Homo sapiens: one gene and its partners. The protein of the gene in region 2 interacts with the protein of the main gene of each other region in a pairwise test. Each region holds a gene or a part of one and is shown on either strand. Other genes may lie near its edges. The genes, in order: MEIS3, INTS4 and ZMIZ2.

The links.
Region 1: the proteins of INTS4 (region 2) and MEIS3 interact in binary tests that used the Homo sapiens proteins (3 or more experiments, as listed by UniProt).
Region 3: the proteins of INTS4 (region 2) and ZMIZ2 interact in binary tests that used the Homo sapiens proteins (3 or more experiments, as listed by UniProt).

The regions. Positions count from the first base shown.
Region 1 is NC_000019.10:47,401,482-47,411,721, reverse strand, and holds the end of MEIS3 (homeobox protein Meis3), read left to right. Parts: intron 1-2,174; coding exon 2,175-2,286; intron 2,287-2,474; coding exon 2,475-2,623; intron 2,624-4,086; coding exon of another isoform or gene 4,087-4,293; coding exon 4,294-4,370; intron 4,371-4,584; coding exon 4,585-4,643; intron 4,644-4,750; coding exon 4,751-4,834; intron 4,835-5,195; coding exon 5,196-5,245; 3' UTR 5,246-5,262; exon of another isoform or gene 5,263-6,294; intron 6,295-8,168; coding exon of another isoform or gene 8,169-8,308; 3' UTR 8,309-8,598; downstream 8,599-10,240. UniProt on the Homo sapiens protein: Transcriptional regulator which directly modulates PDPK1 expression, thus promoting survival of pancreatic beta-cells. Also regulates expression of NDFIP1, BNIP3, and CCNG1.
Region 2 is NC_000011.10:77,919,431-77,929,766, forward strand, and holds part of INTS4 (integrator complex subunit 4), read right to left. Parts: intron 9,118-10,336; coding exon 8,912-9,117; intron 5,463-8,911; coding exon 5,320-5,462; intron 5,238-5,319; coding exon of another isoform or gene 5,216-5,237; exon of another isoform or gene 4,021-5,215; intron 3,042-4,020; coding exon 2,926-3,041; intron 2,044-2,925; coding exon 1,910-2,043; intron 1-1,909. UniProt on the Homo sapiens protein: Component of the integrator complex, a multiprotein complex that terminates RNA polymerase II (Pol II) transcription in the promoter-proximal region of genes.
Region 3 is NC_000007.14:44,743,359-44,753,539, reverse strand, and holds the start of ZMIZ2 (zinc finger MIZ domain-containing protein 2), read right to left. Parts: upstream 4,694-10,181; 5' UTR 4,549-4,693; intron 3,726-4,548; exon of another isoform or gene 3,560-3,725; intron 2,635-3,559; exon of another isoform or gene 2,449-2,634; intron 1-2,448. UniProt on the Homo sapiens protein: Increases ligand-dependent transcriptional activity of AR and other nuclear hormone receptors.

The DNA of each region.
Region 1 (10,240 bases), on a different chromosome or scaffold from region 2:
AGAGATACAAAAAATTAGCCGGGCATGGTGGCACACACCTGTAATCCCAGCTACTCGGGAGGCTGAGGCAGGAGAATCGCCTGAACCCAGGAGGTATAGGTTTCAGTGAGCTGAGATCATGCCATTGCACTCCAGCCTGGGGGACAGGGCGAGACTCCGTCTCAAAAAAAAAAAAAAAAGAAAAGAAAAAGATAATACAGCCCCAGACCCCCTTAGCTACAATTCTGAGACCCCAGAATCTCTGAAACTTCAAAGTTTTGGATTTTGTCCCATAAATTTAGTGCAAACTCATTTGGCAGCAAAAGCTGACCTGAACTAATGAGGGGCTATTTATAGCCTTTATTTATTCCACTTAGTTAAATACTCATCCATGTTGCTATGGAAATGTTCATGAGTTTGATGACGAGGTTGTGCCCCAGACCCTGCCTAGGATGGTTGCGAACTGCATGGTGTATGCGCTGATTTATTGCCTAGAAATGTGAAATGGGCCTGGCGCAGTGGCTCACGCCTGTTATCCAAGACTTTGGGAGGCAGAAGTGGGTGGATCACTTGAGCCCAGGAGTTCGAGACCAGCCTGGCCAATGTGGTGAAACGCCGTCTCTACTAAAAATACAAAAATTAGCCAGGTGTGGTGGCAGGCACCTGTAATCCCAGCTACTCGGGAGACTGAGGCATGAGAATCACGTGAACCTGGGAGGCAGAGGCTGCATTGAGCCTAGATCATGCAACTACACTCCAGCCTGGGCGACAGAGTGAGACACTGACTAAAAATAAAGATAAAAATGTGAAATGTTCGGAATCCTGAGACACTTCTTGCCCCAAGGATTTTAGATAAGATGCCATAGACCTGTGTAAGGTCATCTTGTTTGAGCCCCTGTGTAGACAAACTCATCATTGAATACTGGCCACACACTGTCAGGACTATTATTGTCCTTCATTTTCCTTTTCTTTTTTTTGAGACGGAGTCTCACTCTGTCACCCAGGCTGGAGTGCATTGGTGTGATCTCGGCTCACTGCAAGTTCTGCCTCCCAGGTTCATGCCATTCTCCTGCCTCAGCCTCCCGAGTAGCTGGGACTACAGGCGCCCACCACCACGCCCAGCTAATTTTTTGTATTTTTAGTAGAGACGGGGTTTCACCATGTTAGCCAGGATGGTCTCGATCTCCTGACCTTGTGATCTACCCGCCTGGGCCTCCCACAGTGATGGGATTACAGGCATGAGCCATCGCGCCCGGCCCTTCTTTTCCTTTTTCTTTTTTTTTTTTTTTTGAGACGTAGTCTCACTTTGTCACCCCGGCCAGGCTGGAGTGCAGTGGCACAATCTTGGCTCACTGCAACCTCCCCCTCCCGGGTTCAAGCGATTCTCCCGCCTCAGCCTCCCGAGTAGCTGGGATTACAGGAACCCACCATCATGCCCAGCTAATTTTTGTATTTTTGGTAGAGACAAAGTTTCACCATGTCGGCCAGGCTGGTCTTCAACTCCTGACCTCAGGTGATCCGCCTGCCTCGGCCTCCCAAAGTGCTGGGATTATAGGTGTGAGCCACTGTGCCCAAGCCAGCCTGGTTTTTGTATTTTTAGTAGAGATGGGGTTTCACCATGTTGGCCAGGCTGGTCTCAAATGCCCGACCTCAGGTGATCTGCCTGCCTCAGCCTCCAAAAGTGCTGGCATTACAGGCGTGAGCCACCGTGCCTGGTCCTGTCCTTCATTTTCCAGTTAAGGAAACGGAGGCTCAGAGTGGGGAAGTGACCTGCCCAAGATCACACAGCTAGGAAGGAGGCAGGGACTGGCTTCCCATCCAGGAGTCCTAGCTCCAGAGTCCATGCCCAAAGCCTTGGCACTAACTTTTTTTTTTTTTTTGACACGGAGTCTTGCTCTGTCACCCAGGCTGGAGTGCAGTGGCGCAATCTCGGCTCACTGCAACCTCTGCCTCCCGGGTTCAAGCGATTCTCCTGCCTCAGCCTCCTGAGTAGCTAGGACTACAGGTGCATGCCACCACACCCGGCTAATTTTTTGTATTTTTAGTAGAGACGGGGTTTCACCATGTTAGCCATGATGGTCTTGATCTCTTGACCTTGTGATCTGCCTGCCTTGGCCTCCCAAAGTGCTGGGATTACAGGCGTGAGCCACTGCGCCCGGCCGCCTTGGCACTAACTTCTAACTCTTGTTTTCTAGAATAATATGTGGATTCGAGACCATGAGGATAGTGGGTCTGTACATTTGGGGACCCCAGGTCCATCCAGTGGGGGCCTGGCCTCCCAGAGTGGGGACAACTCCAGTGACCAAGGTGAGAATCTTGGGAGGTGGAAGGGAAACATGGGAGTCAACCAGAGGATTGAAGTTAGATCGCAAGTAAGACTTGTAGAGGGGCAGAGATGGCTGGGGTGTGGAGTGTTGTCTTGGGGGAGAGTTCTGGGGCCCTCTGGTCCTCCACTCTTCACTACCCACACACACAGCATGCCTGCCTTCCCTCAGGAGACGGGCTGGACACCAGCGTGGCCTCTCCCAGTTCTGGTGGAGAAGATGAGGACTTGGACCAGGAGCGACGGCGAAACAAGAAGAGGGGGATCTTCCCCAAGGTGGCCACCAACATCATGCGAGCCTGGTTGTTCCAGCACCTCTCGGTGAGAGCCCTGCTGCCCAGGTGCAGGGTGGGAATGGAGAGAGGGAGAAGGGTGGACCACAGAGACCGAAACCCCAGAGAAACCCAGAAGTGGGAGAAAGACGGCAGGAAATTTTTCGAGACTCTCATGGAGGTGGAGAATTGTGACAGGAGCCAGCAGCACTGAGTGTCACCTGAGTGCAGGTGCCGCTCAGGACACTTAACTCACTAAGTCCTCCCCGAAAACTGTCCATTAACCCGCGCATCAATCATCCACCTGCCCACCATCCACCCAGTGTACCCTCGGAGGGAGGGGCTACTATTATCTCCATTTAACAGGTGAGGAGGAGACTGAGGAACAGAGAGGTTAGGAGACTTGCCTAAGGTCACACAGCCAGAAGTGGATTCAAATGCAGGCAGTCTGGCCTTAACCACCGCACCATACTGCTTCAAGGACAGAGGAGAAAAATAGAGCCAGGAAGAGGCTAAAACAGAGAGACACAGAGATTCGGGGAGGACCAAGTCAGAGCAAGATGGAGACAGGGAGAGGCCGAGTCACAGAGGGACAGAGACAGACAGAAACTCGGAGGCAGGGACGGACTGAATCCCAGAGAGAGAGAGAGATACAGACAGAAACACACACACACAGAGATAGTGAGTCAGAGAGAGAATGTGAGAGCCACAAAGAGAGAAATGGAGGGCCAGACACAGTGGCTCATGCCTGTAATCCCAGCACTTTCGGAGGCCATGGCAGGAGGATCACTTGAGCCCAGGAGTTCGAGACCAGCCTGGGCAACATAGCAAGACCCCATCTCTAAAAAAAAAAATTAGCCAGGCATGGTGGCACACACCTGTGATCCCAGCTACTCAGGAGGCTGAGGCCGGAGGATTGCTTGAGCCAGGGAGATTGAGGCTGCAGTGAGCCATGAAGGCGCCACTGCACTCCAGCCTGAGTGACAGAGTGAGACCCTGTTTAAAAAAAAGAGAGAAAGAGAAAGAAAGAAATGGATAGGGAGGGCTGGGTGCGGTGGCTTATGCCTGTAATCCCAACACTTTGGGAGGCCGAGGCGGGCGGATCACGAGGTCAGGAGATCGAGACCATCCTGGCCAACATGGTAAAACCCTATCTCTACTAAAATACAAAAAATTAGTCGGGCATGGTGGCGCGCACCTGTAGTCCCAGCTACTGGGGAGGCTGAGGCGGGGAATCCCTTGAACCCCGGAGGCGGAGTTTGCGGTGAGCAGAGATCGCGCCACTGCATTCCAGCCTGGCGACAGAGCAAGACTCCATCTCAAATAAATAAATAAATAAATGGATAGGGAGAGGGCCACACAGAGACTCTGACAGATTCAGAGAGGGAGGGCCTGGGCTTTGCTTCCCTCCCCGACGCCAGTGAAGCCCCTCCCCCACGCCACAGGAGCCCCCTCCCCCAACACAGTCTCTCTAATCAGAGCTGGCCAGTTAACCTCTAATTGCTGGAACAGGCGGGGGCTGGCAGGCATGTAATTGCCCCAAGCCTGAGGCTCCCTTGGTCTCCATCCTGGGGAGCGCAGAGACGCTCAGAAGCGCCGGTTCTCCCAGACGTCTGCCTGGGCCTGGGCTCCCCATCCCCCGGACCCCGGTGGGCCAGACCTTGGGGTTCAGACTGCGGCCGGCCAGGCAGGCAGAGTGACTCTTGCTGGTGGCTGCAGCACCCGTACCCCTCGGAGGAGCAGAAGAAACAGCTGGCGCAGGACACGGGGCTCACCATCCTGCAAGTCAACAACTGGTGAGTGGCCCAGGAGGGCCCGCGGGCCGGCCCGGGGCGAGAGCCCGGGCGCTGTCCGCGGTGCTGACGGAGGCCCCGAGCCCCGCAGAGCCACTGCCCCTGCTCGCCCCGCTCTGCCTCCCCCGCCGCTGTCCTCCGGCCCGCTCTGTGTTCGTCTTGGCCTCTCTCCCACTCCCTCTTTTCATTCCCCTCCGTTTCCATGACCGCCTCCCAGGTTCATTAACGCCCGGAGACGCATCGTGCAACCTATGATCGATCAATCCAACCGCACAGGTACAGGGGGAAGGCGGGGACGGAGAGCCTGGGGTTCTTAGGAGGGCGTCAAAGCCGGGTCCCGGGCTTCCTGGGGCTCAGCCTGCACCTCTGAACCCCCTTCGCAGGGCAGGGTGCAGCCTTCAGCCCAGAGGGCCAGCCCATCGGGGGCTATACCGAGACGCAGCCACACGTGGCCGTCCGGCCTCCGGGTAAGCCTCGCCCCCTTAGCTAGGCCCCGCCCCTGCGCACCATGACCCACCTGTAAAACAAAGATGCCCACCTGAGATTCAATTCAAGCGGAATACAGTGTGTCACTTGCCTAGTGAGAAGCAGGTGATGCCAAGGCAGATTTCCTGGTCCCCCATCTTTTCCTTACAACCTCATTTCTTCCAGACTTCAAGCCCAATACCTCGGAAGGCTCCACTTTTTCTTAAAGGGCCAGCACCTTCTTATGACTCAGTCTATCCTGGTAGAGGGATCCCCTGGTGTAGGAAGGGGTGAGGGAGACTTAGAGGCATCTGGGGGTGTCTCTGAAAGACGCACTTACCCTCCTTTTTTTTTGTCTTCCAGGATCAGTGGGGATGAGTTTGAACTTGGAAGGAGAATGGCATTATCTATAGAGGCTGATGCAGGAGAGGTGTGAGGGTCTAAGGGCTGGGGATTGTGCAATTCTCAAACCTCCATTAGACCTCAGGACTCCAAGAGTGGGCACTTCCAGAGTAGTGGGTCAGCCTGGGTCCCTGTACTGTGGGTTCTCTGAGGCTTGATGGGAAGATATTCATCCATCTGTCCGTCCGTCCATCCATCCATCCATCCATCCATCCTCCTCCTCCATGTATCCATCCATCTACCCACTCACTCACCCATCCATATCTTTATCCATCCGTTACTCAATTACTCATTCACCCGCAATCCATCCATCCAAACCTAGTCCACCCACCTACCCACTCATTACCCATCTGACCACACATTCACCCACTCACTCCATTCATCTCTCCACTCGCCAACCCACTCATCCATCTACCTCCACACTGACCAACCACCCACACATCTACCCATTTATCTGTGCATTCACCCACCTCCCTACCCAGGCTTCCACCCACCTACCCATCAACTCACCCATCCATCCACCCACACATCCCATTATCCATATATCCACCCACCCACCACCCACTATCCATCCATCCATCCATACCTACATACACCCATTCATCTATGATACATCTCCAAACATAAACTGAGCCCTTGGCTGGGCACGGTAGCTCACGCCTGTAATCCCAGCACTTTAGGAGGCTGAGGCAGGTGGATCACCTGAGGTCAGAAGTTCGAGACCAGCCTGGCCAACATGGTAAAACCCTGTCTCTACTAAAAATACAAAAATTAGCCAGGTGTGGTGGCATGTACCCATAGTCCCAGCTACTCTGGAGGCTGAGGCAGGAGAATCACTTGAACCCAGGAGGCGGAGGTTACAGTGAGCCAAGATCAACCTGGGCAATAAAGTGAGACTCCATCTAAAAAAAAAAAAAAAAAAAAATTGAGCCCTCACTCCATCCTGACATGCCTCAGGTAGGGTCTGGATCTTGAGAAGATTCTGGTCTTGTGGGGAAGTTGGCAACCCCAGTGACAATCCAGTGTAACAGTTCAAACAATAAAACGTAGTTTCCCCATAGGAGGGAGTCATCAGCTATCTCTGGGGTATCAGGGAAGATTTCCTAGAGGAAGTGGCCTCTGGATGGGGCACTGAAGGATGAATAGGAGTCCACTGGGCAGAGTAGGGAGTAATGTGGAAGGGGGGCATTATTTGACTTTCCCAGGCCTTGAGTCTTCTGTGGCCTGGTATGATGGCGGCACTTTAGAGCATCTTCTCATTTAGTCCTTACAACGATCCCGAAAGGGGAGACTATTAACAATTTTAATTTCATAGATAAGAAGACTGAGGTTCAGAGAGAAGAGGTCACTTGCACAGGTCTACCCTGCTCACAAAAGCAGAGGGAACAGCATGTGCAAAGGCCCAGGGTAGGGAGGCAGCCTAGAGTTTCCAAAGCCCAGATCAGAGTTTGACTCTCTCTGGATTAAACCATTTGTGGCTCCCTAGTGCCATCTGGACAAAGTCCTAACTCCTTAGTTTAGCATCCATCTGTCCATCCATCCCCTGAGCCCCTCTGTGCCCAGCCCTGTGCTGGGTAATGTTGGGGACACAACAGTGACCATGACAGCCTCAGCCCTGCCCTCATGGGGCACAAAGTCTAGTGAAGGGGACAGACCCATCCCCAGATGGTGATGCCCCAGAACGGGCAGGGCTGGGATGGTGAAGCCAAGGAACTGGAGGAGCTCACAGGGGGCGGGTGTTGGACCTGGGATGGGGGGAGGTGTTTAGAGAGGGCTTCCTGGAGGAGGGGGCATCTGACCCAGACTAGAGGATTCAAGGAGGGCTGCCTGGAGGAGAGGACTTTGGAGGTGAGACCAGCAGAATGGGAGGAGTGAAGCAGGAGAGGAGCATCTGCAGAGGGAATAGCACGTGCCAAGGCCAGGAGAGCTTGGAAATCTCGTGGCTGTGAGACAGCCCCAGCCCCCTACACACAAGGAGGAAGTTCTCTTTGGACTGGGTTGAGGCAGGCGGCCGGACAGGTGGCTAATGAATTCAGGGCCAGCAGAAAAGCCCTGGGGATGAGAGTGGAGGCCTGCACAGGGCTTATGCATGGAGGCGGGTGCTGGAGGCCGAGCCTGGGAGAGAGATGGGCAGGCGTATCCAGGCCAGGTAGGGCAGTGGGCGACTCAGCTCTTTCATGGCCAAGTGTGGGTAGGGATGGTCTGGGGTGAGTGTCAGGGGACCTTTGGGGTCAGTAGTGATGGAGGGGTCTTCTCATCCCACTGCCTGGCTGCCCAGTGGGCTCTTTTCTCTGCTCCTTTCTGTCTCCTTTTCTGTCTCTCCACTCCTGATCATGGCTCACTGTAGCCTCGACCTCCCCAGGTTAAGCGATCCTCTGGCCTCAGCCTCCCAAGTGGCTGAGACTACAGGCGTGCGCCACCATACCTGGCTAATTTTTATTTTTATTTTTGTAGAGACGGGTCTCGCTTTGTTCCCCAGGCTGGTCTCGAACTCCTGGGCTCAAGCGATCCCCCTGCCTCTGCCTCCCAAAGTGTTGGGGTTACAGGCATGAGTCACCGCGCCCAGCCTCCTGTCTCTCTTTCTCTCTCTCCATTTCGTCTATTTCTTCATGACTTCTTCTCTCTCTTCCCATGTCGTTCTCTCTGACTCCCTCCAGGTCTGTCTCTGTCCTACTCTGCCTGTCTCTCTCCTTGTTCTCTGTCTCTGTCTGTAGGTCTCTCCCTCCCTCACCTCCACTCTGATTCTCTGTCTCCCTCTTTCTCGTCACTGCGTCTCTTCTCTCTGTGACCCTCCCACATCCCTGTGCCATTCCCCGCCAGCCACTCTCTCTGTGTCCCCCTCACATTGGGGCTGATGAGGCCTGCACAGATGGGCTGGGGTGGGGCCAGGCCCCCTGCCCGCTCCTGACTTGGCCTCTCCTCCCCTCTCCACAGACCCAGCCTCCGGCTGTGACCCCCAGCCTCACACCTGCCTCTGGTTCCCGCCTGGTCCTCCAGCTTCAGGACCCCACCTCCAAAGGCCCCTCTGCTCAATGCCTACCTCCCTAGGGCCCTGCTGGGACATGGGGGCCTGAGTGCCCATCCAAGGGCTCTCAAGGACACCGGCAAGGCCTCCAGGCCCTGAGCCCCACTTCTGCCTTCACCTCTGCCTGGGACCCGAGCTGGGCTCCTGGGCCTTGGTCCCCAGAAGATGGCGGCTAGGGCCTCGCCGCCAGGACAGAGAAGGGACGGGGTGGCTGGGCAGTCAGGGAAGGAGGGTCGCCCGGATCCGACATTTTGGAGAGATTCCTTCACTCTCCTGTCCCCCCTACCTCCCTTCTCTAATTTCTTCTTTTTTTTAATGATAAAGTCTTAAAAACACGGAGCCACCAACTGGAGTTCTTGTGTCTATCCCAAGATTTCAAATTCTTACCAATTTGAAGCTCGTAAATCACGAATAAGAATACTGATTGGCCGGCTGCAAGCACGATGGCTCACGCCTATAATCCCAACCCTTTGGGAGGCCAAGGCGAGTGGATCACTTAAGGCCAGGAGTTCAAGACCAGCCTGGCAACATAGTGAGACCCCATCTCTACGAAGCAAGCAAACGAATTGCTTGGGCATGGTGGTGCACGCCTGCAGTTTCAGCTACTTGGGAGCCTCCCAGAGTGCTGGGATTACAAACGAGCCACCAGGCCTGGCCAAGACTCCACCTCTTAACTAGAGGGAGCTGCAGAATTCCTGCAAGAGATGTGTGTGCAGGGGAGAATGAAGACTCAGGGCCACGCCTGCGTCACTTCACCAGCTGTGGCTGTCCAATCACGTCCTCTGTCCCATGGGAAATGAGCAGGTTAGGCAGGCACACCCTCACTTCCAAGGCTTCCGGACGGACGTGGGTTTGAATCTCGCCTCTGGAACGCAACAGCTATGGCACCTCGGGTTACGACTTCACCTGGCTGGGCCCCGGTTTCCACATCTGGAGAATGGGGAGAGCGGCCGTGCCTGTCTCGTAGGATGATTGTGCTGATGGTGGAGGTATTTCGAGGGACACATGGGGAACTGTGCCACGTGTGTCAGCGCCCATCACAGGCAGAGGCTGTCCTTTGTAACTAGGAAAACTGAGGCTCAGAAACCAGTGTGAGTCCCTTGGGGTTCTCAGTTTTCCAGATCTCTGTCCCCTCCACCCCCCAGAGAGAGAGACCACCAAGGCAGAGTGTGGATCGCTCCCCTGTTTGGCTCTGTCTCTCTCCCTCTGGTACCTTTTTTTTTTTTTTTTTTTTTTTTTTTTGAGAGGGAGTCTCACTTTCTTGCCCACACCAGGCTGGAGTGCAATGCTGGGATCTCAGCTCACTGCAACCTCCACCTCCTGGGTTCAAGCGATTCTCCTGCCTCAGCCCCCTGAGTAGCTGGGATTACAGGCATGCGCTACCACGCCCGGCTACTTTTTGTATTTTTAGTAGAGACGGAGTTTCACCATGTTGGCCTGGCTGGTCTTGAACTCCTGACCTCAGGTGATCCACCCACCTCCACTTCCCAAAGTGCTGGGGTTACAGGTATGAGCCACCGCGCCCAGCCATTCTTTCTGTCTCTGTCTTGTTCAGACCTTGTCTCTCTCTGTCCCCTTCCCCACTGGAAACCCACATCTTCGGGGCCTCCCCCTCCCTTCTCCTTCAGAGGCCAGGTGAGCTCTTTCCTTCAGACCCGGGCTGCTTCGTCTTGGCTCACTGCCTTCCAGTCCCCTCTCCCAAGTGCCCCTCAGCCCCTCCGCCATCCAAGCGCCCCCTTTGCCATCCTCTCCCCAGAGCCATCCTTGGACCTCTGAGTCTCTCGGGCACCCCCAACCACGTACACTGCTGCTCTGTGCTCAAGGCCCAAGGGGCACGTGTGTGGGTTTTTGAAGGACCCCGTGAAAAATGTGTTCCTGGACCCCCGGAGTCCCTTTGGGGTGGGCCTGGATGGAGAGATTTGCACAGAGACACACATCGCTACAAACAGACACACATGCAAATACGCACATGCACACTCGG
Region 2 (10,336 bases):
TGGCCGCCCCCACACCCAGCTAATTTTGTATTTTTAGTAGAGACAGGGTTTCTCCATGTTGGTCAGGCTGGTCTCGAACTCCTGACCACAGGTGATCTGCCTGCCTCGGCCACCCAGAGTGCTGGGATTACAGGCGTGAGCCACTGCACCCGGCCACATTTATCTTTAAAACACTATCTTATCTTTCACTTGAAGGAAGAATAATGATTTATTCCCAAATAAATTTATATAGCATATAATTTTTTCATGAGAATAATTTTTTTTTATTTTTGGCCTAGCCCTACAGATATACTTATTCTTACTGTTAAAAGTGGTTACCTTTTAAGATGGATGGGGAGGAGAGAGCAAAGAGTATTTCACTTTTCATTTTGTATCTACTTGTCTTTTGTTTTTTTTGAGATGGAGTCTCGCTCTGTCGCCCAGGCGGGAGTGCAGTGGCGCAATCTTGGCTCATTGCAACCTCTGCCTCCTGGGTTCAAGCAATTCTCCTGCCACAGCTTCCCGAGTAGCTAGGACTACAGGTGCCCACCACCATGCCCAGTTAATTTTTGTATTTTTAGTAGAGATGAGGTTTCACCATGTTGGCCAGGCTGGTCATGAACTCCTGACCTCAGATGATCCACCCGCCTTGGCCTCCCAAAATGCTTAGATTACAGGTATGAGCCACCGCACCTGGCCTCATTTTGTATTTTCTATAAAGTTTAAATTTTCTAACCATATATATATATACACATATATATACATATACATATACACATATATATACATATATATACACACATATATATACACATATACATACATATATACATATATATACATATATACATATATACACATATATATACACATATATATATATACACACATATATATAAATGTTCCTCTAAATAAACACATATTACTCCAAATAAAGTGATTTGGAGTCACCCAAGCAGGGATGAGTTAATGCAAATAGAGAGATTGGAAGAGTACCTGAGCCACAGCATTCACGAAGTGTTTGCTATTATTATTATGATCTATTTTTAAATTTTCTTCTATATAACTCTAGGTTTTAAAAATAGTAAAGGTTTTATTTTTAAAAAATAAGCACTTGTGGAGAATCATAGCTATATGTAATAGTTAAAATATAACAATTTAGGCTGGGTGTGGTGGCTCATGCCTGTAATCCCAGCACTTTGGGAGGCCGAGGCAGGCAGATCACGAGGTCAGGAGATCAAGACCATCCTGGCTAACACGGTGAAACCCTGTCTCTACTAAAAATACAAAAAATTAGCCGGGCGTGGTGGCAGGCGCCTGTAGTCCCAGCTACTCGGGAGGCTGAGGCAGGAGAATGGAGTGAACCTGGGAGGTGGAGCTTGCAGTGAGCCGAGATCGTGCCACTGCACTTCAGCCTGGGCGACAGAGCAAGACTCCGTCTCAAAAAGTAATAATAATAAAAATAAATAAATAAATATATATATATAACAATTTAAATTCTTGATCTAAAATATAATCTATTGTTCCAGGTTCCTTTCTTCTTGCCTAATATCAATAACCCAGGGACACCAAAAAAAATGAATCATCTTAAAAGGTAAAGGATACAAAAGCAAAAGTATAAAACAATGGCAAAGAGCCCAAGAGAGAAAGAGAATGAACAAACAAGTTTTCAGAGAATATATGGACTGCTTTCTACTATTTAATAACCACAAAGCACAAAAAATAAAAAGCCAAAAACAAGCTGCACACAGTGGTGCTCACCTGTAATCCCAGTGACTTGGGAGGCTGAGCCAGGAGGATGGCTTAAGCCCAGGAGTTTGAGACCGCCCTGGGCAACATAACAAGACCCCCATCTCAAAGGAAAACATGAACAAAAATAACCCTACCCCATGCAAAATAAAAACAAGGACAACAGATGTTTTCAACATACCCTCAAGGCAGGAACAAGATGAGAAAGACTGTCTCGGAGGTAGGCATAGTGCCTGAAGGTGTGATCTGAGAACAATGCTGGCATTGTTGGACAGGTTTTAGCAGCATTGAAAATAAGTACCAAAACTGCAATATCTGATAGATGACTGGGTTAAGTAAACTTGGAAGTATAAAAGGTTGGCCAGATTCTGGCACTCTCACTTTCCACCTCCAAAATCTCCATCAAGAGACTATGATTTTCTAATAATCAAAGAAATGCAAATACAAACAACAAAATACATTCCCCTACTCCACCCACACCCCCAATTACCAAAGGTTTTTAAAAATGCCAGAGACTGCCAAGAATACAAAAAATGGAAATGATTTTGCCTATAAAGTAAGCAACTATATTGCCTATCAAAGTACATACTGGACAGGCATGGTGGCTCACGCCTGTAATCCCAACACTTTGGGAGGCTGAGGTGGGTGGATCACTTGAGGTCAGGAGTTTGAGACCAGCCTGGGCAACAAGGTAAAACCCCGTCTCTACTAAAAATACAAAAATTAGCCGGGAGTGGTGGCAGGCACCTGTAATCCCAGCTACTTGGGAGGCTGAGCCAGGAGAATCATTTGAATCCGGGAGGCGGAGGTTGCAGTGAGCTGGGGTGGTGCCACTGCACTCCAGCCCAAGCAACAGGTTAGGAATTTGAGACCAGCCTAGCCAACATGGTGATACCTCATCTCTACTAAAAATACAAAAATTAGCTGGGTGTGGTAGCGGGCGCCTATAATCCCAGCTACTCAGGAGACTGAGGCAGGAGAATTGTTTGAACCCGGGAGGCAGAGGTTTCAGTGAGCCGAGATCAGGCCACTGCACTCCAGCCTGGGTGACAGAATGAGACTCTGTCTTCAAAAAAAAAAAAAAAAAAGAAAGAAAAGCAAAGAAAAGAAAATTCAGACTACCCTAGCTATACTGCAGAAGGAGATGCCAAAGCTGCCTGCCAACACATCAGGGCCCATCCTAAGCACAGAGGATACAAGCTGGATCATCCATGTCTGGTTCAGCTGTGTCAAAAAATGGGTGGGTGCTCAGAAGCTCTGGCACCAAGGGAAGCACCAGGGTTGGATGCCGACTTCCCAGAAACTTCAAGCACCTGAAACAAACAAATAAGAATGCACATCAACAAATTAGTAAAGTTAGTCCTTTGAAAAGTACTAGGAACTGGAATCAGAAAACCTGAACTGGAATTGGAAATTCTCAACCATATACTTTTGCTAACTCTATGACTTCAGATAAGTCACCCAGTTATTCTGGAACTCGGTTAATTCATCTAAAAAAACTGGTTATTATAAAGATAAAAGAACTGGTTATTTAACCAAGAGCCATTTCCCCCATCTTTCTTCCTGAGAGAGCCCTGATTTTACTCAGGTATCAGGCAGGCAGCAAAGTGCTCGGAAAAGGCAGGTCCAGCCCAAGAGCTGAACCACTATTGGTCTAAACCCATCATGGCAATCCCATTCCCATTTTCCAGTGACTGGTTTGCTGGTGGGCAAGTAAGCCAGTTCTAGACAATGGAGCACGAGAGTATGCTGGCTGGGGAGCTTCTCAGGGATGTTTTTGCAAATCAAAAGAGCAATGCATGAAAGGGAATGACCCTTCCTTTCTGTCTTGAGATATTATCTTATGAGGCAGCCATCTTACAACTATGAGAAGAAAGCCGGCCGGGTGTGGTGGCTCACGCCTATAATCCCAACACTTTGCGAGGCCGAAGTGGCTGGATCAGGAGGTCAAGAGATCAAGACCATCCTGGCCAACATGGTGAAACCCCATCTCTGCTAAAAATACAAAAATTAGCTGGGCATGGTGGCACGGGCCTGTAGTCCCAGCTACTCGGGAGGCTGAGGCAGGAGAATCACTTGAACCTGGAAGGCGGAGGTTCAGTGAGCCAATATTATGCCAATGCACTCCACCCTGGCGATAAAGAGAGACTCTGTCTCAAAAAAAAAAAAAAAAAAAAAGCCAAGAGAACTGCAGAGAAACCAAAGAGAGCCCTGGTAACCTGTTGAATGACGAATCCTGAAACCAACCTTCTGACCACTTGTTATGAAAAAACAGACTTATTGGCTAAGATATTTTTAATCAGATTGTCTTTTTTATTTGTGGGCAAAAACATTCTGATTGATATCCTGGGTGAAGTCCTGAAATCACAGATCTGTCTGAAACTAAGTAGCCTTATGCAAGTAAATTTTTTCATCTACAAAATGAGATTAAAAGTCATTACTTCATAGAGTTGCTATACGCATTAAATAACTAACATAAAGTACTTAGCAAAGTGTCTGTCACATAGTAAGAACTCAATGTTAGCTATTATAACTACATGAGGGCCCTTTATAAACTATAAGGAACTATAAAAGCAAGGTAATTATATATTTTTATTATTGTTTATGGTTTTTTTTTTTTTTTTGAGACTGAGTCTTGCTCTGCTGCCCAGGCTGGCATGCAGTGGCACAATCTCGGCTCACTGCAACCTCTGCTTCCAGGGTTCAAGCAATTCTCCTGCCTTCGCCTCCCAAGTATCTGGGATTACAGGCGTGTGCCACTAGGCCCGGCAGATTTTTGCATTTTTAGTAGAGATGAGGTTTCACCATGTTGGCCAGGGTGGTCTTGAACTCCTGACCTCAGGTGATCCACCCGCCCCAGCCTCCCAAAGTGCTGGGATTATAGGCGTGAGCCACTGCACCCAGCCAATTTAGTGCACCTTCTAAACCAGAACTTAATGAATAAAAAATAATAAGGCCAGGCACAGTGGCTCATGCCTGTAATCCCAGCACTTTGGGAGGCCGGGGCAGGGGGATCACCTGAGGTCAGGAGTTCAAGACCAGCCTAACCAACATGGTAAAACCCCATCTCTACTAAAAAAAAAAACAAAAATTAGTTGGGGTATGGTGGCATGCAACCTATAATCCCAGTTACTCGAGAGGCTGAGGCAGGAGAATCGCTTGAACCCAGGAGGCAGAAGTTGCAGTGAGCTGAGATCACGCCACTGCATTCTAGTCAGAGTGACAGAGCGAGACTCCGTCTCAAAAAAAAAAAGTAACAAAACAAAACACTATATAGGAGAAAGAGGAAATCTAATTAATTTATTTCTATACTTGTAACAGCTACCACAAGGGTTGGTGCATAGTCAGCACACAGCAGGCACATAATATTTGCTAGGTGGATAGATGCACAAATTAGTAAGTAATCTAAAATGTGATACTCAGCTTAGGAATCAGATTCCTGAGAGTTCGGTTAAGTTGAATCAGGTTTCTAAAGTAAAGGCAAAATTCAGGGCCGTACTATCCTCAATCTATAAGGACGGAACAAATGTCAGCATTATACATTTACCACATTATGGGACTCAGTGAGTAAATGGGCAAAAAAGTCATTACTTCCATATGGAGTCCCTATCAGTAGGGTACTTGGTTAAATTTTTCAGCAGCTCCACCAATGCAAGATGAATCCCTTCTTTGGTTGAAACATTAGTACAGCATAAGAGTTCATGAAGAGCCTCTCGAATATCTCTGGATGAATCCTTTTAAAAAAAAAGTAATAATAACAGTAGTTACTGTTGGTTAGCAGACTCAGCCTCTATCTACCATCCCCTTCTACCCAGCCACCTTCCCATCTAGGGTGGCCATGTAACAAAGTATGTGGAAGTTTTTTAGCTGAAATTCCTGAAATATCTTTCATTTTATTGATAAAGGACCAGAGGCAGTAGCTTTATCCCCTTTGTTCTTTAACCTTCCTTTTCCATCCTATCTGGAACTCAATCATGATGCTGAAGGTACAAGAGCCTTTTTGCAACTAGGAAAAAGGACAGGCTAAGAAGAAAGGCTAAGAGAGAGGCTGGGAATGGCCAGTTAGCAGAACACTCAGAACACACATACTTATTAAGTTTGCCATCTTATACAGGCACAGTTTGTGGCATCCCAAAACAATTACAACAGTAACATCAAAGATCACTGATCACAGATCACTGTAACAGATGTAATAATGAAAAAGTTTGAAATATTGCAAGAATTACCAAAATGTGACACAGACATAAAGTGAGCACATGCTATTGGAAAAATGGCACCGATAGACTTGCTCAATGCATGGTTGCCGCAATCTCTCAATTTATTAAAAAAACACAATATCTGCAAAGCCCAATAAAGAGAGGTATACCTGTATGTGTTAAATGGAGGAGTGAGGGAAAAAGTCAATCTATCTGAAGTGAATTTCAAGATTTCAAGAATGAGAAATATTAAAAGAGAGGCAAATCGAAATGTCACTCCTATCCATAAAATTCTGCAACAGTTTTCCATAATGTTAGAATAAAATCCAGACATCTTAAAATGGCCTACAAGGCTCTCCACCTGTCCCTAATCCCCTCTCAGACTTCATCTCATGCCACATTTCTACTTTCTCACTGTGGTTCACTCCTACTGGCTTTCTCTCTATTCTGCAAACACAACAAAGCTCACTTGTGTTTTAGAGCCTTTCCACTAGCTGTTGCCTCTACCTGAAGTTATTCTCCCAGTCTTCACATAGCTAGCTTCTGTTTATCATTCAAGACTCAACTTGAACATCATCTCCTCAGAAAGTCTTTACTAACCACTCAAATTACAGAGAAATTCCCCATTCCTCAATCATACTGTTTATCTTCTGCAAAACATTTATCACCATCTGAAATCATTTTGTTTGTTTACTCCACCTCTCTTTAGAATATAAGTTTTATGACAGCAGGGATCCTGCCTGTTTTGATATCCCTATATTTCTAATACATAGACAGTGCTTGTTGAATAAAGAAGTGAATTTTTCTAGGCAGGGTAGGATCTTGACATAGCAGGAAAAAAAAAAGGCAAATTCCAGCTGGAAGGGTCAGCAAGGTAAGGCTCAAAGCAATGAAGCCCAGTGACACAGAAAATATAAGGGAGAAGTACACAGCAGGGTGGAAGAATAGTCTACTGTAAGTTTATATTGGTCTGAACTCCTGAAAAGAATTAAAAGGCAAGGATTCTTTGTGAGTTATATACATAAGTACTCACAAATAAGCATACCTGTGAACAATTCTGTACATCAAAACATAGCTTGGAACATAGCTCAGCTACTCAGCAAACACTTACCGAGCACCTAATTGTGCCAGACACTGCTGCAAGACATTGGTAATAAAAAAATGAAGAGTCAGCCGGGCACGGTGGCTCACACCATAATCCCAGCACTTTGGGAGGCCAAGGTGGGTGGATCACTTGAGGTCAGGAGTTCGAGACCAGCCTGGCCAATATGGTGAAACACGATCTCTACTAAAAAAAAAAATATATACAAAAATTAGTATTGTGGTGCGTGCCTGTAATCCCAGCTGCTCGGGAGACTGAGGCAGGAGAATTGCTTGAACCCAGGAGGTGAAGGTTGCAGTAAGCCAAGATCGTACCACCGCACTCCACCCTGGGGAACAGAGCGAGACTCAGCCTCAAAAAAAAAAAAAAAGGAAAGGAAAGGAAAGGAAAAAGGAAAGGAAAGGAAAAGAAAAGAAAAGTCAAGACACCTTGAGGAGCTCACAGTCTTATGAAATAGAGAATTACTGAAAAATGCTACAGCAGTATACACAGGGTGCTATGGGAATAGAGTGGTGGCATTTAGCCCACCCAGTGCTGGGAGTAACAGTTAGGGAAGGCTTCCTGGATATGTTACCTAATATAGGCTGTGGGAATAAGTGGACGTCTCCTGGGTTAAAGTGGCAGTTTTGCAAACTGTGGGGGAAAATTACATTGAAGGTAAAATTGTGAGGAAAAGCAATATGTGTAGGAAAGTGACTTCAGCATAAAGTTCAAGGTGAGGAATGGTGGAAAAGAAAGCTAAAAAGGAAAGGAGTGGCTAGGCTATGTATGAGGCCACCCATGAAGAACCGCACATAGAATGTAAACTTATTTTTAGGAAAAAATACATGAAAAAATTATAAAGATTTATAATTCAGGAAAAATCTCAGTAGAAGTGCTAAGCAGCTGAGAGAATGGTAGGGACCTTCAAAACCAAAGCACCAGCTATTCTTTAAAGTACGCAGTAGAAATCTGTTACAAGTGTTCTAAAAACTAAGCACCTAATCACTATCCCTTTCACATCTGAACCCCATCTTCCCCAAAAAAGGAAACCAGAGGACAAACCCCATTTATGAATACTCTGAAGAACTTGAGTAGTTGCAATTAAAATCCAGACATTTTAGAAAAATAATACAAGAACCACCTAGAGCTGTATGGCCTGGGAAGCAACTCTCTGTTTACATTCTGGTTCAGCCACTAACTCAAACAACTTATTTTTTTCTCTATAAAATTCCCAGGGTAGAATGAATCAATCCCTAAGATCACTTGCTGCTATAACAGCCTATGATTCACTACAAGAATAAAATCAAATTAAAGGTTGAAAAGAACTCTTCATTATTTAGCCCCTACCTTATCTATAGCCACGTCCTCCACTCTTCCATCTCTTCAACTCTACACTATCATTATAATAAACTCTTTTTAGTTCCTTGAATATATCATATTCTGTCTTATCTCTGCATCTTTAGACATTGCTCCCTCTGTCTGGTACCCTTTCATCCTACCACCAGTGTCACTTCTCCTTTAAAAAAGATGCACTTCAGCCTGAGTGACAGAGTGAGACCCTGTCTCAAAAGAAGAAGGCAAAAAAAAGCCTAGTTAAGTCCTACTCCTCCTTCAAGTGTCCACTACAGCACTTCCTCCTTCTTCCCAACCTCACCTCAGCCAATTCAGGTTAGACACTATGTATTCCCTAGGCATCCTATCCTTTCTTGATCACAGAAAGACCAAGCTTATTCAAATTTCCTGTTTCACAGTCAATTTCTTCCATCTTAGGGAAGGGGTATGGTGAGAAAACAGAACTGTGCTCCCTGATATAGTGTTCTGTCACCAATGCCTAGCACAATACCTGATTTTAACAGGGGGGGGTGAGGGATGAAGAAATGAGTAACAAATTAGAAACACTCACCTCTAGCACAGCCAGGACAGTGTCAAGCTGATCTTCTCGGAGGGTGATGTTGTTAGAGATTTTTCTCATGGTATGTATAGACTGCAGACGTACTTCCTCAATTTCATCGTTGAACATGTCAACTAGGAAATCAAGGCACTTCTCAGCAAAAGAGGGTGAAGACTGGGCCAACATGCAGAGGGCCTCCACAGCAGCAATACGAACCTCTAGAAAAAAGAACAAATGAAATTGCACATCAGGCTGGGCACAGTGGCTCACGCCTGTAATCCCAGCACTTTGGGAGGCCAAGGGAGGCAGATCACTTGAGCCCGCCTATGCAATGTGGTAAAACTCTGTTTCTACCAAAAATATTAAAAAATTAGCTGGGTGTGGTAGCGTGCGCCTGTTGTCTCAGCTACTTGGGAGGCTGAGAAGGGAGGATCACTTGAACCTGGGAGGCAGAAATTACAGTTAGCCAAGGTCATGCCACTGCACTCCAGCCTGGTGACAGAATGAGACCCTATCTCAAAACAAAACACACAAAAAACAAATTAGCCAAGTGTGGTGGCACACGCCTATAGTCCCATCTACTTGGGAGGCTGAGGCAGGAAGATCACTTGTGCCCAGGAGTTTGAGCCTGCAGTGAGCCATGATCGTGCCACTACACTCCATCCTGGTGACAGAGTGGGCCCCTGTCTCAAAAAAAAAAAAAACTCCAAAAACAAAAAAACAAAAACTGCACATCAGCCAGGTGCAGTGCCATACACCAAAGTCCCAGCTACTCAGGAAGCTGAGGTGGGAGGATCATTTGAGCTCAGGAGTTCAAGGCTGGCCTGAGCAACACACTGAAGCCCCATATTTTATATATATATATAAAGTAACTCATATCAAATTAAGAGCCATGGGATAAGTCCAAGATGGATTCCTTCTCCTTCAGGCTGTCTTCTATTCTCTACTCCTCTCATTCTATAAACTCTCCCTGGGAGATCTCTATGCCCACAGTTTCACATACCACCCACCTTAACGTCGATCTAAGAACATGGACTTTAGTATCACAAGGACTATGGCTTAAATCTGACACCACATATATGTGATGAAGTCACATGTCTGTCTACATTAACTTCTTGAAAATTAAATTGTCTTACTTATCTCAGTATTCTGACCACAGTACTTTTTAAAAAGTCAGTTAGTAAATAATGTTATCATTAAGATTAAAGTAGACTAAATATCATTGTTCGAATTTTAGAGGTAAGATTCAGCAATGTGGATTCACTTGCCTCAAAGTGAATGAGGGCAGGAATAGGACCAATACTCAGGTCTGTTGATTGTAGGCTAAAATCATATAGTAGTTAAGGATACACGCTTGGAATGATAGAGGTCTCAGAGCAAACTGTAGTGAATGATCCCTCCACTAAGTTGGAGGGTGATCTTGAATAAGTAACTCAA
Region 3 (10,181 bases), on a different chromosome or scaffold from region 2:
GCACAGTGGCTCACACTTATAATCCCAGCACTTTGGGAGGCCGAGGCAGGAGGACTGCTTGAGCCCAGGAGTTCAAGATCAGTCTGGGCAACAGAGTGAGACCCCCGACTCCTCAAGAAATTTAAAAATTAGCTGGGCGTGGTGGCATGCACCTGTGGTCCCAGCTTTTCAGGAGGCTGCAGTGGAGGGATCACTTGACCCCAGAAGGTGGAGGCTGGGGTGAGACATGATCATGCCACTGTACTCTAGCCTGGATGACAGAGTGAACCATGATTTAAAAAACAAAACAAAACAAAAAAAGAATTCTCAAAACTAAAAAAAAAAAAAATTAAAATTAAAAACTCCAATTAGAAAATAAGCAAAAAACATAAAGAGACACTTTGCCAAAGAGAATATACAGATGGCAAATAAGCATAAGAAAAGATGCTCAGCATCACTAGTCAGTGGGGAAATGCAAATTAAAACCACAGTGAGATATCACTATACATCCATCAGAATGGCTAAAATAAAAAATAGTGACATCACTAAATGCTGGCAAGGAGAAACTGGATCTCTCACACATTACTAGTGGGAATGTAAAATGTACAGCCACTCTGGGAAACAGTCTGGCCGTATCATATGGAACTAAGCAAGCAGCTACCCTACTATGACCCAGCAACTGCACTTGTACGCATTTATCTCAGAGAAATGAAAACTTATGTTCACATAAAAACCTGTACACAAATGTTTATAACTGCTTTATTTGCAAGAGCTATGGAATGGAAACAGCCCAGATGTCCTTCAATGGATGAAGAGTTAAATCAACGGTGGTACATCCATAGCCCGGATGCAATATAAAGGAATGAACTACTGATATATGCAACAACCTGGATGAATCTCCAGAGAATTAATGCTCGGTGGAAAAAGCCAATCCCAAGAGGCTACACGGTGTACGATTCCTTTATTTAGCATTCTTGACACACCAAAATTAGGGAAATGGAGAACAGATTGGTGATTGCCAGGGGTTAAATGTGGGGGTAAAGAGAAAGGTACTAATCTCTTCTCCATTTCTGTAATTTTGGCAGGAGGAAGGTGGGCGTGAATATAAGAAGGCAACAGGCTGGGCACGGTGGCTCACGCCTGTAATCCCAGCACTTTGGGAGGCTGAAGTGGGCAGATCATTTGAGGTCAGGAGTTCGAGACCAGCCTGGCCAACATGGTGAAACCCCAACTCTACTAAAAACATAAGAATTAGCTGGGCAAAAACTAACCGGGCGTAGTGGTGGGCGCCTGTAATCCCAGCTACTCAGGAGGCTGAGGCAGGAGAATCATTTGAACCCAGGAGGTGGAGGTTGCAGTGAGCCGATCGCACCATTGCACTCCAGCCTGGGCAGCAAGAGTGAAACTCCATCTCAAAAAAAAAAAATAGAAGGCAACAGGCTGTAACCTCTTTACTGTATCAGTGTAGTGTCCTGGTGCAATGTTGTACTAGTTTTCCAAGATGTTACCATTGGGGCAAACTGGGTAAAGGACAGAATAAATCTCTCTGTGTCATTTCTTATAATGCACATGAATCTTTAATTTTTTTTTTTTCTTTTTGAGATGGAATCTTGCTCTTTCACCGAGGCTGGAGTGCAGTGGCACGATCTAGGCTCACTGCAACCTCCACCTCCCAGGTTCAAGCGATTCTCCTGCCTCAGCCTCCTGAGTAACTGGACTACAGGTGTACACCACCATAGTCCATGCCTGGCTAATTTTTGTATTTTTAGTGGAGATGAAGTTTCGCCATGTTGGCCAGGCTGGTCTTGAACTCTTGACCTCAAGTGATCCACCCACCTCGGCCTCCCAAAGTGCTGGGATTAGAGGTGAGCACCACTGTGTCCAGCCAATAATTTCAAAATAAAAAGTTTAATTACAATACAACTGCTACCACCAGCCTTCTGTCTCCGCAGAACTGCTGTGACAATCTTTCCCCACTAGAAAGCTGGTTGGGTTGGCTGGCCACTTTGCTGTCCCAAGAACAGAGAGGGAATCTGGCAGGCAAGCAGATGTGCCCCCTCCCCCGCCCGTGGTCAAAGGCCTCAAAGTGCAGGCAGCACTCTGTGCAGCACTGCCTCATTTTAGGTCACCTAGGGCAGCAGCTCCCCAACTGCAGCACATCAAAACCAGCTCGCAGCTGGTGATGACAGGCTGCCCAGCCCCACCTGAAGTCAGTAGGATGGGCTGGGGCCTAAGCCCAGAATTTCTAACAAGTTTGCAGCTACTGCTGCTGCTGGTCCAGGAACTGTAGTTTGAGAACCTCAGATCTAGGAAATGCAGTGAGCTGGGGAGAAGGAGCACAGGGCAGGTACAAGGAGGGGAGGAGCCCACAGCAGGCTCCTATGTCACATGAGCCTGGGGAATTCCACCCCTGATGGTTCTCTGCTGTGGACAGAGACCACAAAGATTTCCAGTTCCCTCTGAGCTTACTCTTCACTGCACAGGGGGATTTCCTGCCGACCCGAACTCATGCCTCTGGTCTCCTCTCTGAGGACAGTCTCTCTGAAAAGACTTCCAGTCTCCAGGTCTGGTATCCTTGACCCTGTGCCCCTGATGATAGGATAGTGTTCTGCGTTGTGTGTGTGCAGATCCTCTTCTCATCTCCTGGCTTTGAGTCTGGGTTGGGAACAAGCCTGGAGCCTGGAATCTGGATCCCAGATCATGCAAGGCCCATGCCCACCAAGGGTCTTAGTGCCTGGCGCTTTCCTTGTAAACTAACTCCAGCTGGAAGCTAGGACCCCTTGAGAGATGGACAAGGTCAGTCTAGAGGGCCACAAGGCTTTCTCGGGGGTCAGATCACATCTTCCTCTAGACAGAGTTACAGAACTCACTACCCCAGACCTCTCTTCCCCAAATGTCCCAGAGTAGCTGCACCCCCAAGTCTCCTGGTTGACCTCCTGAGCCTTGTTCCATGCCACCTCTCTGCCTGCCTAGTCAGCTAGGAGCAGGACCAGCAAGTGGGCCCTGTGGCAGGCAACGCTTCTCAATAGGTCACACATCAGGACTCACTGTCTCCAAGATTGCAGGGTCAGGATCCAACCCAGGTGACAATGGAGTCAAAGGGTATTGAAGAAATGATGGCTGTGGAATGTTGCAGGAGCGGGGTCCTTGGTAGCAAAAAGTGGGGTACTCACATATACAGGTAGCTGAAAGTCCTGCCCCCTCTACCTGTAAGGCCACAGTACTAAAATGTCTAAGCGTGGGGCTAAGTCAGGATGCAGAGTTCATCAAAAAGTCCAGGAATAAGCAATGGCCCAGGCATGAGACATTTCAGTGAACAGCTGAAGGGACAACCTTAACCTGGCATCAGTTTACAATGTGTAAGATGGATATCTGGTAGCATCCTAGGACTGAGGACACATGACCACCTTCATGTCATCAGCCCTTGGGAGCTCAATCCCAATAATCAGGATGCTCCCCAAACATCTTAGGCCTGTCCTTCAGAAATCTACAACCGGCAACTGTCACCTGCTTGTTCTCTTCATTTACACTTCCAGCTTGTAACTATCCCCTGGGCATGACAAGGGCTAGAGGTCAGTACCTCTGGAAGTTAAGATTCCTTCACTTCTCCTGTTTCCACACTAAGCATCAAGGGATGCCCTCTGGTTCTAGCTTGCCAGAACTTGGTGGTGAGTCTGTGTCCATCCTATCCGTAATCACCACGGTCTCAGACCAAGTCACATGTTCCGTGTGTGTCCCTGTGAAATCTGCGATGACACAAATTAAAGACACCACCATGGATGTTCTGTAATACTGGAAAGAGGGTACCCTAGGGAGAAGGAGAGGCAGAACACTGCAGGGCAGAGGGTCCAGGGAATGGGAGGAGAGACACGGTAGGTGGAGGGGTAAACAAGGCACCGGGTGGGGGTGCCGCGGTGAAGGACACCTGGCACTAGGGAAGACAAGGCACCTCAGGGGAGCAGGGCATCCTCACGCCTGAGCTTCAGTATGTCCAGTTTGGAAAGGGGTGTCCCCATCAAAACTGGCAGCTGGGGGCTGGCCGCTCAGCGTCGTTCAGCCCAGGAGCGGAACAGCTCCTCCGCGAGCAGGTGACGGCCTCAGACGGCCCCCACATCGCCGTGCTGGTGGGCACGTAAGTAGGAGCGGAGGGGCGTACCATGTAGGTGAGACTGCCTGGCCCCAAAGCTAGGAACGATCAGGTTGGAGCGAAGGCCCGGCCAGCCTTCATCGCTCAGGAGAACCCCGAGCGCCGCTTACACCCCTCGGCCAGCCTCCAACAAAGACTCAGGGGAGGGCTGGATGACCCTGACGCCCACGGGGCCGAGCCTGCCCAAGACCACGACGCACGCGTGGCAGGTGCCGGCAGGTGGGCGGCAGAGCCTCTAGCCCCAGCCCAGCTGTGAACCCTACCGTGGCGCCGCAGCGGAACCGGGGCGCCCCGGGCGACCAGCTACACCTGCCTGCCCGCCCGCACCTGCCGGCCCGCACCTGCCGCACCTGCCTGCCCCCGCCGGCCCACACCTGCCTGCTGGCGGCGTTGCCAGGGGCCACCCCCAGGACCCCGCTCACCTCCGCCCGGCCTGGCCCGGCCCCTCGCCGTGGCGGCCCCCGGCCCGCGCCGCTCCATGCGCTCAGCCCGCCCTCCGCGCCGCCCGCCGCCCCGGGGCCGCCGCCACCCGCGCCATCGCGCCGCCGCCCGCTCCGAGGGCACAATGGAGCCGCCGCCGCGCCGCTCATGCATATGCATGACGCCGCGCAGCCGGCCCCGCCTCCCAGGCCAGAGCAGCAGAGCCCCGAGCCGGCGCTCGGGGCGGGGGCGGCCGCGAGCCCGAGCGGCCCAAAGCGGCAGGGTGGGGCCAGGGCCGCAGGTGGCTGGGCGGGCAGGAGACGCAGCCTGATCGCGACCTGCGCCCCCAGCCCCCTCCACACCTTTCTGAACGCGGCGTCGGCAGAGCCACTGCGCTCTTCCTGCTCGCAGTCCGCCGGGAGCGGGGCGGGGCCGGGCGGCGGAGGCGGGGCCAGGACGCCGGGGCGGGGCCGAGTGGAAGGCGGGGCCAAGGTGCCGGGGCGGGGTCGGGAGGAGGAGGCGGATCCAGAGAGCCGGGGTGGGGCCAGGGCTCGGGGCGGGCCCCGGCGGAGGAGGAAAGGAAGAGTGAGTCCTTGCCCTTCCCCCACCCGCCCCGCCCGCGCCCCGCCCGCGCCCCCCCTGCTTCCTGGGAGTCCATTGCTCTGGCCCGGCGGGCGGGGACACGACTGGGAGACAGAGAGACCCAGGGTGCCACTTTTGGGAGGGGATCTTATTAAAGGACTCCGGAAGCCCCTCGTTAAAGCAGAAAACTAAACTTAACAAGTTCGCTGTCCTCACTGCTCAGTTCTCTCTTCCCAGTGGTTCTCCTTCTGGAAAAAGTCACTATTGAGCTAGTCTAGCCTGATGGAATAGCCTCTCTGATCAGTTTCGATCTTTGAAATGCTATTATCAGCCTTTAAGTTATTCTTGACTTTTCCTACCGTAAGTTGAGGAAGACCACATTCTCTCAACTACCCATAATTAATTTTTCTTAATTGTGGTAAAATACACATAACGTAAAACTTACCATCTTAACTGTTTCCAAGTGTAGTTCTGTGGCACCAAGTACATTCACATTCTTGTGCAACCACCAACCGTCTCCAGGACTTTTTCATCTTCTCAAATGGAAACTCCATACCCAGTAAACACTAGCTCCCCATTCTTTCCTCCTCCTAGCCTTTGGCATTCACTATTCGTCTCTAAATTAGACTACTCTAAGGACATCGTATAAGTGGAATCATACATTATATGTCTTTTTGTGACAGTCTTACTTTAGTTAGCACAGTGTCCTCACTTCCATCCATGTTGTGGCATGTGTCAGAATTTCTTTCTTTCTTTCTTTCTTTCTTTCTTTCTTTCTTTCTTTCTTTCTTTCCTTTCTCTCTCTCTTTCTTTCTTTCTTTCTTTCCTTCCTTCTTTCCTTCCTTCTTCCCTCCCCTTCCCTTCCCTTCTTTTTTTTGACGGAGTCTCACTCTGTCGCCAGGCTGGAGTGCAGTGGTGCAATCTCGGCTCACTGCAACCTCCACCTCCCAGGTTCAAGCGATTCCCCTGCCTCAGCCTCCTGAGTAGCTGAGACTACAGGGGCACGCCACCACGCCTGGCTAATTTTTTTGTGTGTGTGTTTTAGTAGAGACGGGGTTCATCATGTTGGCCAGGATGGAATCGATCTCCTGACCTCGTGATCCGCCTGCCTGGGCCTCCCAAAGTGTTGGGATTACAGGCGTGAGCCACGGCGCCCAGCCCCTTCTTTCTTATGGCTGAATAATATTCCATTGTATGCATATTCCACATTTAAGTTATCCATTCATCTATCAATGGATACTCCACAATTAATTTTTGACATTGTTGAAATTTCTTCCCTGAAGGCCGCCTCTGAACTCTGTGCTCTATTTCTTTTGGGAATCATTCGTTCATTGAACAAATATGGCAGGCCTGCTGTACAACAGTCCCTGGTCTGGGGTCTGTGAACACTGGTCTGTCCCCAGGAACCAGGAGAATAAGGCCCCTCCATCCATACAGCAAGCATGTTAGAGGGGACAAACAGAAGGAAATGAGTTAACAGGTAACAGTGTGTCTGTCAGAAAGAGTGTTAGGAAGAAAACTAAATCAGGGCCAGAGAATGGGGAGGGAGTGATGAGGTATGAGGGACGGATTCTCTGTGGAGCTGGCCCTGAAGAAGAGACCCAAATGAAGGGGGAGGCAGGCACCAGGGGACCCTGACCATTCCTCTGTCTCGGAAGAGGCTGCATGTATGGGGGAGTTGCAGGCAGGTTTGTGGAGGATGCTGGAAGTGGCCACGCCAAGCATCCCAGGTGCCCCCAGGGCAGGCATCTCTCTCACCTCCTAACTGCTTCAATAATTCCTGCCCTGCTCCCCTGGGAAAGGCCACCTGGTGTCCACTCCTTTCTAGGGAATGTTTTCATTTTCTACTATATGATGAATTGTTAAGAAAGTCTTCCTTGAGGCCGGGCACAGTGGCTCACGCCTGTAATCCTAGCACTTTTGGAGGCCAAGATGGGTGGATCACCTGAGATCAGGAGTTCGAGACCAGCCTGGCCAACATGGTGAAACCCTGTCTCTACTAAAAAATACAAAAATTAGCCAGGCATGGTGGCGTGAAACCCTACTCTACTAAAAATACAAAAATTAGCCAGGTGTGGTGGCATGCACCTGTATTCCCAGCTATTCGGGAGGCGGAGGCAGGAGAATCGCTTGAACCCGAGAGGCAGAGGTTGCAGTGAGCTGAGATCGCACCACTGCACTCCACCGTGGGTGACAGAGCGAGACTCTATCCCCCCACCATCACCCCCCCAAAAAAAAAAGTTGCCTGGCGCGGTGGCTCACGCCTGTAATCCCAGCACTTTGGGAGGCCGAGGCAGGCAGATCACGTGAGGTCAGGAGTTCGAGACCAGCCTGGCCAACATGGTGAAACCCTGTCTCTACTAAAAGTACAAAAATTAGCCGGGCATGGTGGTGTGTACCTGTAGTCCCAGCTACTCGGGAGGCTGAGGCAGGAGAATTGCTGAACCCGGGAGGTGGAGGTTGCAGTGAGCCGAGATCACACCACTGCACTCCAGCCTGGACGACAGAGTGAGATTCTGTCTCAAAAAAAAAAAAAAAAGTCTTCCTCATTTACTAGAATAAAAAAACTGCCTTATTGAAGCTTTTCCTCTACAAGTGCATAAAATAAGAATCATCACTTTGTTATTTGACAGCTCTTCAAATATTAAAAGCAACTTCTCAATCCCCCAGTCTTCTGTTGGAGGAATAATGCTCCCAGTTCCTTAAGTGTTAACAGTAACACAATTTTCAGATCCTGTACCAACTGGCCACTCTCCTTTAGACAGGCACCAGTTAGACAATATCGCTTTTAAAATGTGACACCAGAAAGGGAACCTGATATCCTAAATGTAATCAGCCTAGCCCAGCGTCCAGGGGCTCCTGCGAGTCCACAGTCTCCTACAGTTGGTGTGGCCTTAACCTGAATTTGGTTTTTAACCAGTTTGGGTACCCCCAGTTACTATGACTCTTGACTTGCAAAACTAACTTTAAAAAGAAAAAGGTAGGCCGGGCGCAGTGGCTCACGCCTGTAATCCCAGCACTTTGGGAGGCCGAGGTGGGCGGATCACGAGGTCAGGAGATCGAGACCATCCTGGCTAACATGGTGAAACCCTGTCTCTACTAAAAATACAAAACATTAGCCAGGCATGGTGGCGGGCCCTGTAGCCACAGCTACCTGGGAGGCTGAGGCAGGAGAATGGCGTGAACCCAGGAGGTGGAGCTTGCAGTCAGCGAAGATCACGCCACTGCACTCCAGCCTGGGCGACAGAGCGAGACTCCATCTCAAAAAAAAAAAAAAAAGAGAAAGGTGCTGCTGCTCCTTTGCATACAAGCGGTATATTCTCATTGTGGAAAATACAGAGAAATGTTCAAAATACCTTAAAACTGTTCAGAGATAATTCCAGTCAATTGTTTGCTCTGTTTTTTTCCCAGATGGTTCTCTTTGCATATCTTGATGTTGTGGAGAATATGGCATATGTATGATTTTGCATTCTTATTTTTTCACATTATCAACATAAACATTTCCCTTACAAGCATTATCTGTGTTTCTCACAAAATAAATACTTCAAAGATTTATTTACAAGGATGTTTGCTGTGACATTAGGATATTGAAAAATTACACACAAGCTGTATTCATTCATTCAACAATTTTCTGTTGAGCTTCTACTGTGTGCCAGATACCACTCTCAGTGCTGGAAACATGGCAGTAAGTAAAACTGATGAAAATCTGCATTGTCGTGGAGCTTGTGTTAGCAAGCTAATAGTTACATCCTAGTAGGTAATAGTTAAGTAGAACGCACCCACAGGTTGGAAATCATGTTTTTGAAGAATATTTAATGGTATGAGCAGACAGTCACAATTTGCTAACTGAAAACATCATACAAAGTTGCACAATGCCAACATCTTTGTTTCCTGAAAAGCCTTTACGGAGCACACAGTCTTCCCACAGGCCTCTAATTCATTATACGGGGAGAAAGGAACCTTTATAATAACATTGGTCAGACACTACCTTAGCAAAATGACCAAGGTCAACAACACCAACAGTGGGACCATTTGACATCCTGGGTACCTGATGTGATACTCAGAGAAAAGATACAGACTCCTTCAAGTAGAATTTCCAGCCAGAAATGTTCAACCTGAATCTGATCATGAAAAAATAAGACAGATCTACACAAAGGCTCAGTCTCCAGCACTGTCTGTGACTCTCAGAGAACGTCAGGCCTGGGGAAATGGTCTCATTTCTCGGTAAGCAGGTCTGTGCAAGCCTGCCCCTAAAGTCGGAGGAAGCTAAGAGGTTAAAGAAAGAGGCTGACAAATTCAGTTTCTCCAAAAGAAACATTTAATAGGAACTCATGAGCTGAAGCCCTGTCTGTGTATCAGGGGCTTACATGGGATAGGGAAAGGGTGACCCTGAAGGGATGTATAGGACAATTGAGGTATGATAACATCAAGACTGTTTTGACCTAAGGGCAGGAATTACAATAAGGCCTCTTACACAAGGAACAATAGATAAACTGGAAATCTTAGAGGCCTTCCCAGAACAGAGGTTAATCAGAGGTCATCATGGCAGATCGGCATCAAAGATGGACTTGCTTTAGCCTCCACAGGTCTGGATTAGGGGAGACTAGAGACAAGAGAAGAAAATGCCATGCTCCTTAACTAGACTGGGGCAGGGACACTATTGGGACAATTGGGGAAATTTGATTATAGCCTAGAGGGTAATTGCATTGAATGGGCTGGGCATGATGGCTCATGCCTGTAATCCCAGCACTTTGGGAGGCCGAGGCGGGCAGATCACTTGAGGTCAGGAGTTCGAGACCAGTCTGGCCAACATGGTGAAACCCCATCTCTACTAAAAATACAGAATTAGCTGGGCGTGGTGGCAGGGTCCTGTAATCCCAGCTACTCAGGAGGCTGAGGCAGGAGAATCGTTTGAACCCGGGAGGTGGAGGTTGCAGTGAGCTGAGATTGCACCACTGCATTCCAGCCTGGGCAACAGAGTGAGATTCTGTCCTAAAAATAATAATAATAAATAAATAAATTGCATTGAATGAATGTTTAATAGCCCACTGGG